3 linked regions of the Homo sapiens genome follow. The protein of the gene in region 3 purifies or fractionates together with the protein of the main gene of each other region. This does not show direct contact. Each region holds a gene or a part of one and is shown on either strand. Other genes may lie near its edges. The genes, in order: VAPA, PRKAR2A and PRKACB.

Region 1 (3,748 bases), on a different chromosome or scaffold from region 3:
AGCTACTCAGGTGGCTGAGGCAGGAGAATGGCGTGAACCTGGGAGGCGGAGCTTGCAGTGAGCTGAGATCACGCCACTGCACTCTAGCCTGGGGGACAGAGCGAGACTCCCTCTCAAAAAAAAAAAAAAAAAAAAAGAAAGAAAGAAATGATGGCACAAACCCAAAGACTGAGCAGCAGCAAGATTTATTGTGAAGAGCAAAAGAACAAAGCTTCCACAATGTGGAAAAGGACCCAAGCAGGCTGCCCCTGCAGGCTGGGGTGGCCAGTTTTTATTGGCTTATTTGTCCCTGCCCATGCCCTGCTGATTGGTCCATTTTACAGAGTGCTGATTGGTCCATTTTACAAACCTCTAGCTACCTACAGAGTGCTGATAGGTGCGTTTTTACAGAGCACTGATTGGTGCATTTTACAAAACTCTAGCTAGCTACAGAGTGCTGATTGGTGCATTTTACAATCCTCTTGTAAGAAAAGTTCTCCAAGTCCCCACCCAACCCAGAAATCCAGCTGGCTTCACCTCTCACTCCCAGGAATTTCAGGGCTGAAAACACATTCCTCGTGGGTGGCACAATCTTCTGTGAATGCCAGGCTAGCAATTCCAGCAGGCTGTTCCTGGATGGACCCTAATACCTGGATCGCACATGAAAACTTGGATTTGGTGCCTACTTCTAGACTGCTGTTTCGTCTCGTTTATTTTCTAGACAAACTGTGCTGCTCCATGGCAGTAGCATCAATATGTCTTTTGTTTCGTGGCGCTACCTAGGGATTTAAATTCAAACCGTATCACAAAATACAATAAAGGTTTATTTACAGCACATTGGTTTCATTTGACGTTCCTGTACCGGACTACCCTGGCAATCGGCTAAAGTTTTGTCAGCAAGTTTGCTGCTGGGATTTTTCTTATTTGGTTCAGTTTACTACAGCCTATCGTAAGTGATGCAGATGGAGTTAGTTTCTAACATGTGAACGTGAGAACTGTTTTGGTTTGGGTCCATCATTAAAACTGAAGAAGATTATTTGGGTTCGATGGTGTAGATTTTTGACTTTTATTTCTAGTTTCTGTGTGCTTTGTCATATTTCCCCTTGCTTCCTAGACGAGGTGTGTTTCCTTATCTGATTTTGCATCACTGGAGAGAACTCAGGAAGCAGGAGAGGCTGAATTGGATACCACGGGGAATGCAGCCCTGCCAACAGAGGACTGGATAGAATTAGAGCAAACGGACACATCCCCCCACGCCTGTTCTCCACAGGGCAGATTTTATTAATATATTTCTAACATTGGGGCCTCGTTTCAGTCTTCAAGTTTTTTCTTTTTTAGCGCAAACTAGACGCGCTCTGAGAGCCAAAATTAGCGTCCGCGAACCCCACCCCATTGCCTCCAACAGACCTAGCTCTCCTTTCCACCCTCAAACAGCCGTTACTACAGTTCCCAGCAAGCACCGCGCAGGGCCGCAAAGGGCCAGGCCCTCGGCGAAGGCCCCGCCCCGCAGGGGGCATGCCGGGAGTTGTAGTGAGTGGGCGCTTCCCTACTACTACTTGTCCCTTCCACTGGGCATTCCCACTTGGAAGAGTGTGATGCGCTGCCAGAGCAGTTTCTCTAGTTCCGTACTCGGAGCTCAAGGTGACAGAGGACTGCGCTTCCAGCCCTGCGCTGCGCATCGCGTCGGTCCCGCGGACCTTTGCCCCGCCTCCTTCCACACCCGTTCCCTTGACAGCTGGGCTGCGCTCCGGGCCGCGGCAAGCCGCGAGCGCGCAGGCGCAGCAGCCCCGCGCCGCGCTAGGCCGGCCTGGAGGGCGGGACAAGCGCTAGAAGCTCCCGGCCGGGGGCGCGCACGTAGGCACGCAGAGGCCGTCACGTGGGTCGCCGAGGCTCGCAAGTGCGCGTGGCCGTGGCGGCTGGTGTGGGGTTGAGTCAGTTGTGGGACCCGGAGCTGCTGACCCAGCGGGTGGCCCACCGAACCGGTGACACAGCGGCAGGCGTTAGGGCTCGGGAGCCGCGAGCCTGGCCTCGTCCTAGAGCTCGGCCGAGCCGTCGCCGCCGTCGTCCCCCGCCCCCAGTCAGCAAACCGCCGCCGCGGGCGCGCCCCCGCTCTGCGCTGTCTCTCCGATGGCGTCCGCCTCAGGGGCCATGGCGAAGCACGAGCAGATCCTGGTCCTCGATCCGCCCACAGACCTCAAATTCAAAGGTAGGCAGAACGGGGACACCCCCGGGTGGGGTGGGGCGCGCGGACCGCTGGCTGTCGGCGGGGGGGCGCGGAGGGCACGTCCGCGGCCCTGGCCCGAGGGAGCGCCCCCTCCCCCACGCCCCGGCGCCTTCCCTTTCCCGGCTGCTTTCTTGCCGCCACCTCGGCCGGCCTGCCCCTTGCTCCGGCCCGCTTCATCCCCTCCCGCCCGCCCTCGCTGCGGTGCGCGCGCCGGCCGGGGCGAGGCGGAGGGGAGCCCGGCCCTGGCGCCGCCGCCGCCGCCATCTTGCGGTCCCGCGGGGGCGCCTCCTGGGCGTCCGGTCCCGCCCGCGCCGCGGTCCGCCTGGGCCCGCGTCCTTGGCCCCAGAGGCCGACGGCGTGCTTCGGCGGGGCGTGGGCGGCTGGGCACCCGAGGGCGTGCGCTCTGGGCTGCGGCGGGGAGTGGGCTCTGGAGGTGGCGCAAGCTGCGTCTGTCGCCCGCTCCCGGCTGTCAGCGGCGCGGGGAGGCTAGGGCACGGCGCGGGACCCCTTGGGAGTGAGAGCCGCCCCCCGACCCCTGCCCCGGCCCGGGGAGAGCTCGCTGCAGCCGGCCCTCGGGTTCCGCGGAGGGCGTCGCTTGTCACCTTTCCGCCAGGTTTAGAACTCGGCCGTCAGGTGTAGGACGCGCCGGGGAGGTGGAGAGTCCTTGGAGGTGCCTGGCGAGGGCTGCCCGGTGCTGTTGGCACGGACCCAGGTGCGTGCGGGCAGGAGCGATGCGTCAGCCGCAAACGGAGAGTTGTAGGTTCATAGTAGCGGGGCTTCCTGCCTTCTACGACATTTCAGTGTGCCACCCGCGTGCTTTTATTTAGCCCTTTAGTTGAGCTCCTCTGCTGAGAAACCTTCAGTGCGTGTGACTTTTTTGCTTTTACGTTTGCGGTTTCCGACAGATCCTGAGAAGGCTGATAAGGTGTCACCCAGCTCTGGAACTTTGTAGGTTTTTGTAGTACTGCCTGTGATAAGTTTTTTAGTCTGACTTGGTGATCCTGGAAGAATCCCAGGGGCTTTTGGTCGGTTTCCTTGTCAATATGTAGTGTACTTTAGGAAAGAGAGTTAAAATGTACAGATTTTTATTTTTTTTCTTTGTTTTTAAGGAATACTGAAAGAGTGTGAACATCTAATAGAAAGTAGGTTCCTTCCTATCTTTAGTTAAGTGTAAAGTGAGTCCCGTTTTGGAAGTCTATGTCTTGTATTTCAATTGTTGAATGAGAACAATTTTTGTGAGGTGTATAGCAATTCTAGTGCTAAAAGAAAAAATTAAATCCTTTATTGTTGTGTAAGGCTGAGTCCAAGAGAAAGCCAACTACATTGTTTTCCATAGGAAAAACTTCAGGTTTAGGAATTTAAAATATATTCTGGAATTATGAGATTAATATTGCATAACTACATTGCAAGCTTTTTAGTGCGTTTACAAATTTCTTTGAATAGAAGTGTAAGTGAGCTACTTGTTGGGTAAGGATTTGGTTTTAAGGTGCAGTGAATGTATTTTATTGCAAGTTTATGTAAGTTGTGTGATTTTTACGTAGTTGT
Region 2 (3,748 bases), on a different chromosome or scaffold from region 3:
TTTTTTTTTTTTTTTGAGACGGAGTTCGCTCTGTCGCCCAGGCTGGAGTGCAGTGGCATGATCTTGGCTCACTGCAACCTCCGCCTCCCAGGTTCAAGCGATTCTCCCTGCCTCAGCCTCCCAAGTAGCTGGGACTACAGACGCCCGCCACCACGCCCGGCTAATTTTTGTATTTTTAGTAGAGACGGGGTTTCGCCATGTTGGCCAGGCTGGTCTCGAACTCCTGACCTCAGGTGATCCACCCGCCTCGGCCTCCCAAAGTGCTGGGACTACAGGCGTGACCCACCACGCCCGGCCAGGTTTTTCGTTTTCAAAAATGAGGTAGGGTGTCTATTTTGCCCAGGCTGGTCTCGAACTCTTGGATTCAAGCGATATTTCCTCCTCAGCCTCCAGAGTAGCTGGTATAGACTATAGGGGCCCACTGCCCCGGCCGGCAAGATAATTATTTACTCTCACCAAATTTGATTCAATCGTTTTGGCCAAGTTTTTAAAAATAGGAATATTCCCAGGGACCATGTTTGAAGAAATACAAACTCAAGTAAGCAGAGGTGAAATGACCTGAGAGATTTGCTTTAATACACTTCGGCAAAGAAAGAAAAAAGGTATGGATGAAACTTTGTGACAAACGCAACTGTTAAATGTAGGTGATGGCATATAGGGATTCATCTCACCTTTCCTCTTTTGTCTATGCTTAAAAGTTTTCACAGTAACTTTTCAAAAAAAATTATTATTTCCAAACAAACTTACTGTCCTATCAATTAAACACAAGTCACTGGATGAGAACGCTGTTGTCTTCGAAGCCAAAACTGGTGAAGGGTCTTAAGCAAAGGCGAGGGATCCTCTAGCAGGGCCGACAGCGCGCACGTTTCCTTCAAGGCTGGATCTGACAAATCACTCGGTGCGCTCTAGGGCTCGCAGGATCGCGGAGCTCAATTTGGAAGTGGCGCACGCGGGCTCACGCCGGTGTCTCAGGGAAACGCTAGAAACGCGGCTACAGAGCTCCCAATCCCAGCCTGCGGTCGGCTTGGCTGCGGCGCGACACCTGGCTCCCTGCCACCCCTCTAGACCTCTGGAGACCTCCTGCACCACTCCCCAGGGCCCCGCCCACAGCCTACCTTCCAAGTCCTCGTCCTCCTCCGACTCGCTGTCCCCTTTGGCGTCGGCGACACGGTCCGGGCCGGGTTCTGGCGGGGGGTGGCCCAGGCTCTGGCGTGGGGTGGCGGCGGGCAGGACTGAGGCTGGGGCGCGGGCCTCGCGCAGGCGGGTGAAGTACTCCACTGCGAATTCGACGAGGTCAGGCGGCTGCTGTCGCAGCACCTCCACCGTGTAGCCCTGCAGCAGCTCCGTGAGCCCCGGCGGGATCTGGATGTGGCTCATGCCGGCGGCGGCCGAAGGGATAGACGGGTTGGGCCGCCGGCGGCCACTGTCTCCGCGCTCACTCACGCCGGCCTTTCGCTCCGCGCCCGCGAGGTCTCTTCGCGCACGGCCCCGGCTCACGTCGCGCCGCTCTTTGGCCGGCTCTGCGTTTCCGGGCCGCGCAACCCTACGCTACCACGGCCGACCTGGCACCGCCGCCGCTGTCACTGGGCAGCCGCCGCCGCCGCGGGGACCGACGGGCAGGCGAGCTGGACGGGCGGGGCAGGCGTCCTGGTTGTGACGCACGCCACCGCGGGCGTGCGCGTCCCCGCTTAGCACCGGCCCTCAGTGCGCTTGCGCCACTAGATGACCCGCCCCCTCGGGCTGTCGGGGGGTCGAGACAGTGGAGTGTTCCTGATGCCAGCTCACGGAGGGAATCCAGGGAATTAGGTAATGAACGGTCTACCCATGAAGGGGACCGATTAGTGCCTCTCGCCTGGTCCTGAAGACCTTTAAATTATTCTTTCAGCTGATGCCAAGAGCCTCTTTTTGGCCAGCACTTACTAAGCACCAGAGACACAGCGAGAAGCAGAAGCATACGAGCACATCAGTGTGATTCTGCTGTGATGAAGGGCAAGAGAGGGCTCACTTTCCGGCGTGACATTCAAGCTAGCCCCGAGGCCTGAGCAGGACCCGCCCAGGGGAAGATCTGGAGGAAAGCCATCTGAACATACAACAAGAGCAAAGGCCTGGTGGAGTCAAGACCACCTTGGCTGCCAGGTGGAATGGTGGAATAACTCAGGAGTCTGTCAGGTCTCTGAGATGTCAAACGGGTAAGGCCTTGTAGGAAGTAGGCGTTTGAATGAGATCATAATTTGAGAGCCACAGACAGAAAAATAAATTTGAAAGAGTTCACTCAGCCAAATGTGTACAGTGAGAAAGGGAAATAAGGCCAAAAGCAGCAAAGACCTCTGTGCCTGTTCCTCCTGGAGCACTTTCACCAGGGTCCCCAGATCTAGGTCTGCCCATTCCTCTCCCCACATTCTACACTGGGCCCTAGGTCAACACTGCTTGATGAAGTTGAGCAGACCACAGGCATTGTTATCCTTTGCCCCTGGGAAGATGGTATAGGTGAACTGTAGAGGCCAGACTATTTCCCAAATTGCCCTCCTCCTCCTACCAAACTGGAAGGGTATTGAAAAAGGTGGAGACCTTCCTGGGATGTCCAGTCTACAGCCTACGTGCTAACCAAAGGCCCACTGGGCATAGAGCAGAGTCCCCCTCTCCTTACAGGCCTAGCCAGGAAGAGAGTAGCTGTAGGTTTGGGAACCTGAGGGCATTTGGGATGCTTAAACACCGCCTGGTAATTACTCAGTATTAATTAAAATCCTCCCTATCACCTCCCATACAGGCTTGGCACACACCCAGGAGCTCAATGCTGCTGGGAGCTGAGCAGCTGGGAGCAAGGAGCCCTCATCCCCACTGATGAAGAGGCCAGCCCAGGTTCTAGGCTAAGCAGGCCTGTGATTATAAACAGCAGTGTCTCCCTGGACAAGTTTCTTGACCCTGAGAAGAATGTTAGACCATCAACTTTGTGAGGGGACAGGCAGTCTCCAACTTTTTTCCTGCTCAGTCCTTATTGCATACTCTTGGAGAAGGTCTACTGACTTGTTCTCAGATGCCCCACGGCTCAGCCAACCACCCATCCAGCAGAGCATTCAAAAGGCATCTGGAAGGAATGAGGGCGACCGTTCTGCCAGGCCCCTATTTTTTTTTGAGAGGAGTCTCACTCTGTCGCCCAGGCTGGAGTGCAATGGCATGACCTCTGCTCACTGCAAGCTCTGCCTCCCAGGTTCAAGCGATTCTCCTGTCTCAGCCTCCCAAGTAGCTGGTACTACAGGCGTGCACCACCACACCCAGCAAATTTTTTCTATTTTTAGTAGAGATGGGGTTTCTCCATGTTGGCCAGGATGGTCTCAATCTCTTGACCTCGTGATCCACCCGCCTCAGCCTCCCAAAGTGCTGGGATTACAGGCGTGAGCCACCGCACCTGGCTTTTTTTTTTTCTTTTAGATGGAGTCTTCCTTTTGTCGCCCAAGGTGGAGTGCAATGGCACGATCTCAGCTCACTGCAACCTCCACCTCCCAGGTTCAAGCAATTCTCCTGCATCAGCCTCCTGTGTAGCTGGGATTATAGGCACCTGCCACCATGCCCAGTTAATTTTTGTATTTTCAGTAGAGACGGGGTTTTGCCATGTTGGCCAGGATGGTCTCGAACTCCTGACCTAGGGATCTGCCCGCCTTAGCCTCCCAAAGTTCTGGGATTACAGGCGTGAGGCACTGCACCTGGCCATTTTGTTTGTTTGGGTTTGTTTTTGAGATGGAGTCTTGCT
Region 3 (3,748 bases):
TGTTGCATATTTGTTTAGATTGATAAAAATTTTATTACACAAAACAAAGTATACAGAAATGAGCTGTTACATGGCAAAATTCATTGGTCAGTGTTTTGTTAACTGTTATTCACACATAATATTTATACATAAAGCTATAAATTTAAGTTTATCTTATAGATACTGTTACATACTTGTTTAGATTGATATGAATTCCATTACACAAAGTATACACAAATGAACTGTTAAATGGCAAAATTCACTAATCAGTGTTTTCTTATTGGCCTTTTATGTAGTCCTAATTTGATTACATTATTGTTCCTATTTATTTTACTTATCAGTATTGTTTCTATTTTTTATGTTTGTCAAACAGTTGGCAGTAAATCTGAAGTAAGATTTTTTTAGATAGATTGTTTTAGATAGACCTTTTTCTTTCTTTCCTTTCCTTCCCTTCCCTCCCCTCCCCTCTGCTTCCAAAGAGAACCACGGAAATTTCTTATCCTTTAGTGTCAAAAAAACAAGTACTCAAAATTTTTGTTAAATGCCACAGGTTACTTTCTTTCCTGAAAATTGACAAGGCAAGTTTTACTTACTTTTAATCAAAAGAGATGTTTTGGCCAGGCGCGGTGGCTCACACTTGTAATCCCAGCACTTTGGGAGGCCAAGGCGGGCGTATCGCTTGAGGCCAGGAGTTTGAGACAACTCCTGACCTGGCCAACATGGAGAAACCCCATCTCTACTGAAAATACAAAAATTAGCCGGGCATGGTGGTGCGCGCCTATAATCCCAGCTACTCGGATGTCTGAGGGGCGAGAATCGCTTGAACCTAGGAGCGGAGGTCGCAGTGAGCAGAGGTCGCACCACTGCACTCCAATCTGGGAGACAGAGTGAAACAACGTTTAAAAAAAAATAGAGAGGTGTTTCTAAGTGAGATCACTAAATCAGGGGTTTAGGTAAGTAGTAGTCTTCAGTGGTAAGGTTTTAAAATTAACATGTCTCAGCCAACTAGAAGGAACTTTTTTCTCTCAATTGAAATTTCTTGCTATGGTGGATTTTATATAATTTAAATCTTGTATTTTGTTCTTTTCAAATTTTAGAATGTTTTAAAATGTACCCCTGGTAATAGACATATGTCAGCAGATTATAAGTTTGATAAGCAATACTGACATACTAAGTGTATGTAGTTCCTGTATGTATTAGGCCTAAATCAATGAATTAGAAACATTCAATTTTTTAAAGTGCTATTTCACATTGTTTTATTTATACGTGTTATAAATTTGTTTTGCAAGAGTTTTTTCATACCCATTTCATACTAGTTTTTTTTTATGAAAAGTTAGCTGCTTATAAGGATTCATAAAATCTGTATATTAGTTGATTTCCTAGAAAAAATACAACCTGTCTTTAGCATGTTGTGTTTGGAGGACAGCTTGGCCTTCAGTTGTTTGCATAGACTTGTCATACATGTTTAACTAGTTTTCTTTTTAAAGAATGTTTAGCCTACTATATATATAAAGCTTTATATTTAATGCTCTCATTAGCCTATATATTAATATTAAAACACCCAAACATAAAGCCTTTTAGGCAGATATTGCAAGTTTTTAAAATCCTCAACTCTAGCTGAAAAGTGTTTTGCTAAGAAAAGCTCAGTAATGTGCTGTTTTATATTAACAGGAAACAGAACAGCAGTAGTGGTTTGAATACCCTGCAAACAGGAAGTTTGACACATGCATAGCTCTTAGCTTCTGTGTAAGAAGTTGTGAGCTCCTTCTGGAAACATTTGCAGTTACATTAAGTAAAGTGTAAATGCACATGAATGGCAGCTTATAGAGAACCACCTTGTAACCAGTATACAGGTACAACTACAGCTCTTCAGAAATTGGAAGGTTTTGCTAGCCGGTTATTTCATAGACACTCTAAAGGTACTGCACATGATCAGAAAACAGCTCTGGAAAATGACAGCCTTCATTTCTCTGAACATACTGCCTTATGGGACAGATCAAGTAAGTTTTGTTTTTTAAATGATACATTATAACTAGCAACTAAAATGGTAATTGGAGTTTTACAATCAAACATAAAGAACCCTCTTTTGTTTGTTGTTTTCTGATTTTCACAAGGACATTTTGCAAGATGAAGTTGAAAGAATTCCATAAAAACTTGATTATAAGTTGAGCTGAATCATTCAGCTTTCATCATTGTATGGTTTTATTTTTGACTAAGTTCAATATCAGTGACAAGATTTTCTATAAAATTCTTACATCATTTCTAATGTACTTTTTTTTGTTGTTCTTACATAAAAATGAAATACTTAAGTTTCAGAAACAACCATCTGTTTACTTCTTAAAATGTCTTGTATTTATAAGCTTTAAACTTTGAAAGGGGCAACAAGACTCTTGAATTTATAATTACATTTCTATTGTGTTTGCCATGGTTTTATTTTTAAATGCATGTGAGAAAGTTATTTCAGTTTTACAAACAGGAATTTCTAAAATAAAACATAATTATTCTATCTAAATTCTTACACTTATAACATTATGGATATCAAAAACTTTATAATTATATTTTATGTTATTTATACATATGACTCAAATGCAGGAAAAGTTGGTTATGCATGAATCACATTCTTTCAGGCATGTTAAAATGTTTGAACTTGCAGCTTTGCTAAAATGGTGCTGGGGAACCATTTTTGGTGCCATACACTCTAAAAGATAAATTGCACATATAAACAATACTAGTGCCGCCATTCTACATCTCACCTTGGACCCTCCTCAAGGTATTTCTGTGACTCCAATTAGAGGAACAATAGAATTACCCTTGAAACTTTTGCCCTCTTTGGTGTGTTTGTTTGATCATCAAATAGCACTAGCGTTTGACTCTTTCTGTTTATGTATTTGGTAGCAGTTAAGGAAGAAAACTCAGCTTAACAACCACAACAGCAAAATCAAGAATGGCTTACAAAATTTACTCCTAGGTTTATACAGCACCTTGACAGTGTTATAGAAGCTTATTTGAATTAATTTTTTACTAAATCAGAAATTTTTTTACATTCTTCAAACTATTTTTGGGAGATTGAGGAAGAACATGTATTTGTGCATTTTTTCCACTTAAAAGGTTTTGGGTTATTTATAGTCTTTACTGTATAGCAAGTTGATGGATGAGGAATATGAATATATATCTTCAAGTTAATGAACTGTTGAATATTAAAATAGTGGTATAATATTAAACTTTACCATGTAACAAAAGCTTGTTAATTATTGTCCTTGCCCTATTCTTTTAAATTGCAGTCTTTTAAATCCTTTTGGAAATTATTTTTATGCATTTCAAGTATGTTTTAATTTAAAGTTAAATGAGGAATTAAGACAGAATTGAATTAATTTCTGTTTCATTAATACCTGCTCTTCATATAGTGGGTGTTTAGTAAAAGTGTCTCAAATAAATGAATGTTAGGGGTTTTTAATAATTAAAAGTTATGTTTGAACTAGACTTTCACCACTTTTTAAATGTATGGGATCTGTGATGCTTTCTAAAACATATTTTAAAATCTAGTAATGGAAAATAGTATCATGAGCCATGATTTCTATTGGATAAAATGCTGTTTTGTTTTTTTTTTATTGTGAAGTCAAAACAAATAGGATTCTTGTACACAAATAAAATTAGGAGCAAACCATGTAGCGCTGCAAATAATATGCATGATGTAAGAAATACTTAAAGAGTAACTGAATGTTCATTAATTAAGCATTCCTCTACTTGACTCTCCTTTTTATATCCCTGA

Evidence for each region.
Region 1: the proteins of PRKACB (region 3) and VAPA purify together in Homo sapiens (affinity purification with mass spectrometry; 5 studies listed by BioGRID and IntAct, with this or other methods). This does not show direct contact.
Region 2: the proteins of PRKACB (region 3) and PRKAR2A purify together in Homo sapiens (affinity purification with mass spectrometry; 7 studies listed by BioGRID and IntAct, with this or other methods). This does not show direct contact.

What each region holds. Positions count from the first base shown.
Region 1 is NC_000018.10:9,912,151-9,915,898, forward strand, and holds the start of VAPA (vesicle-associated membrane protein-associated protein A), read left to right. Parts: upstream 1-1,865; 5' UTR 1,866-2,106; coding exon 2,107-2,185; intron 2,186-2,453; exon of another isoform or gene 2,454-2,915; intron 2,916-3,748. UniProt on the Homo sapiens protein: Endoplasmic reticulum (ER)-anchored protein that mediates the formation of contact sites between the ER and endosomes via interaction with FFAT motif-containing proteins such as STARD3 or WDR44.
Region 2 is NC_000003.12:48,846,220-48,849,967, forward strand, and holds the start of PRKAR2A (cAMP-dependent protein kinase type II-alpha regulatory subunit), read right to left. Parts: upstream 1,656-3,748; 5' UTR 1,378-1,655; coding exon 1,116-1,377; intron 1-1,115. UniProt on the Homo sapiens protein: Regulatory subunit of the cAMP-dependent protein kinases involved in cAMP signaling in cells. Type II regulatory chains mediate membrane association by binding to anchoring proteins, including the MAP2 kinase.
Region 3 is NC_000001.11:84,142,570-84,146,317, forward strand, and holds the start of PRKACB (cAMP-dependent protein kinase catalytic subunit beta), read left to right. Parts: upstream 1-1,701; 5' UTR 1,702-1,792; coding exon 1,793-1,979; intron 1,980-2,706; exon of another isoform or gene 2,707-2,749; intron 2,750-3,748. UniProt on the Homo sapiens protein: Mediates cAMP-dependent signaling triggered by receptor binding to GPCRs.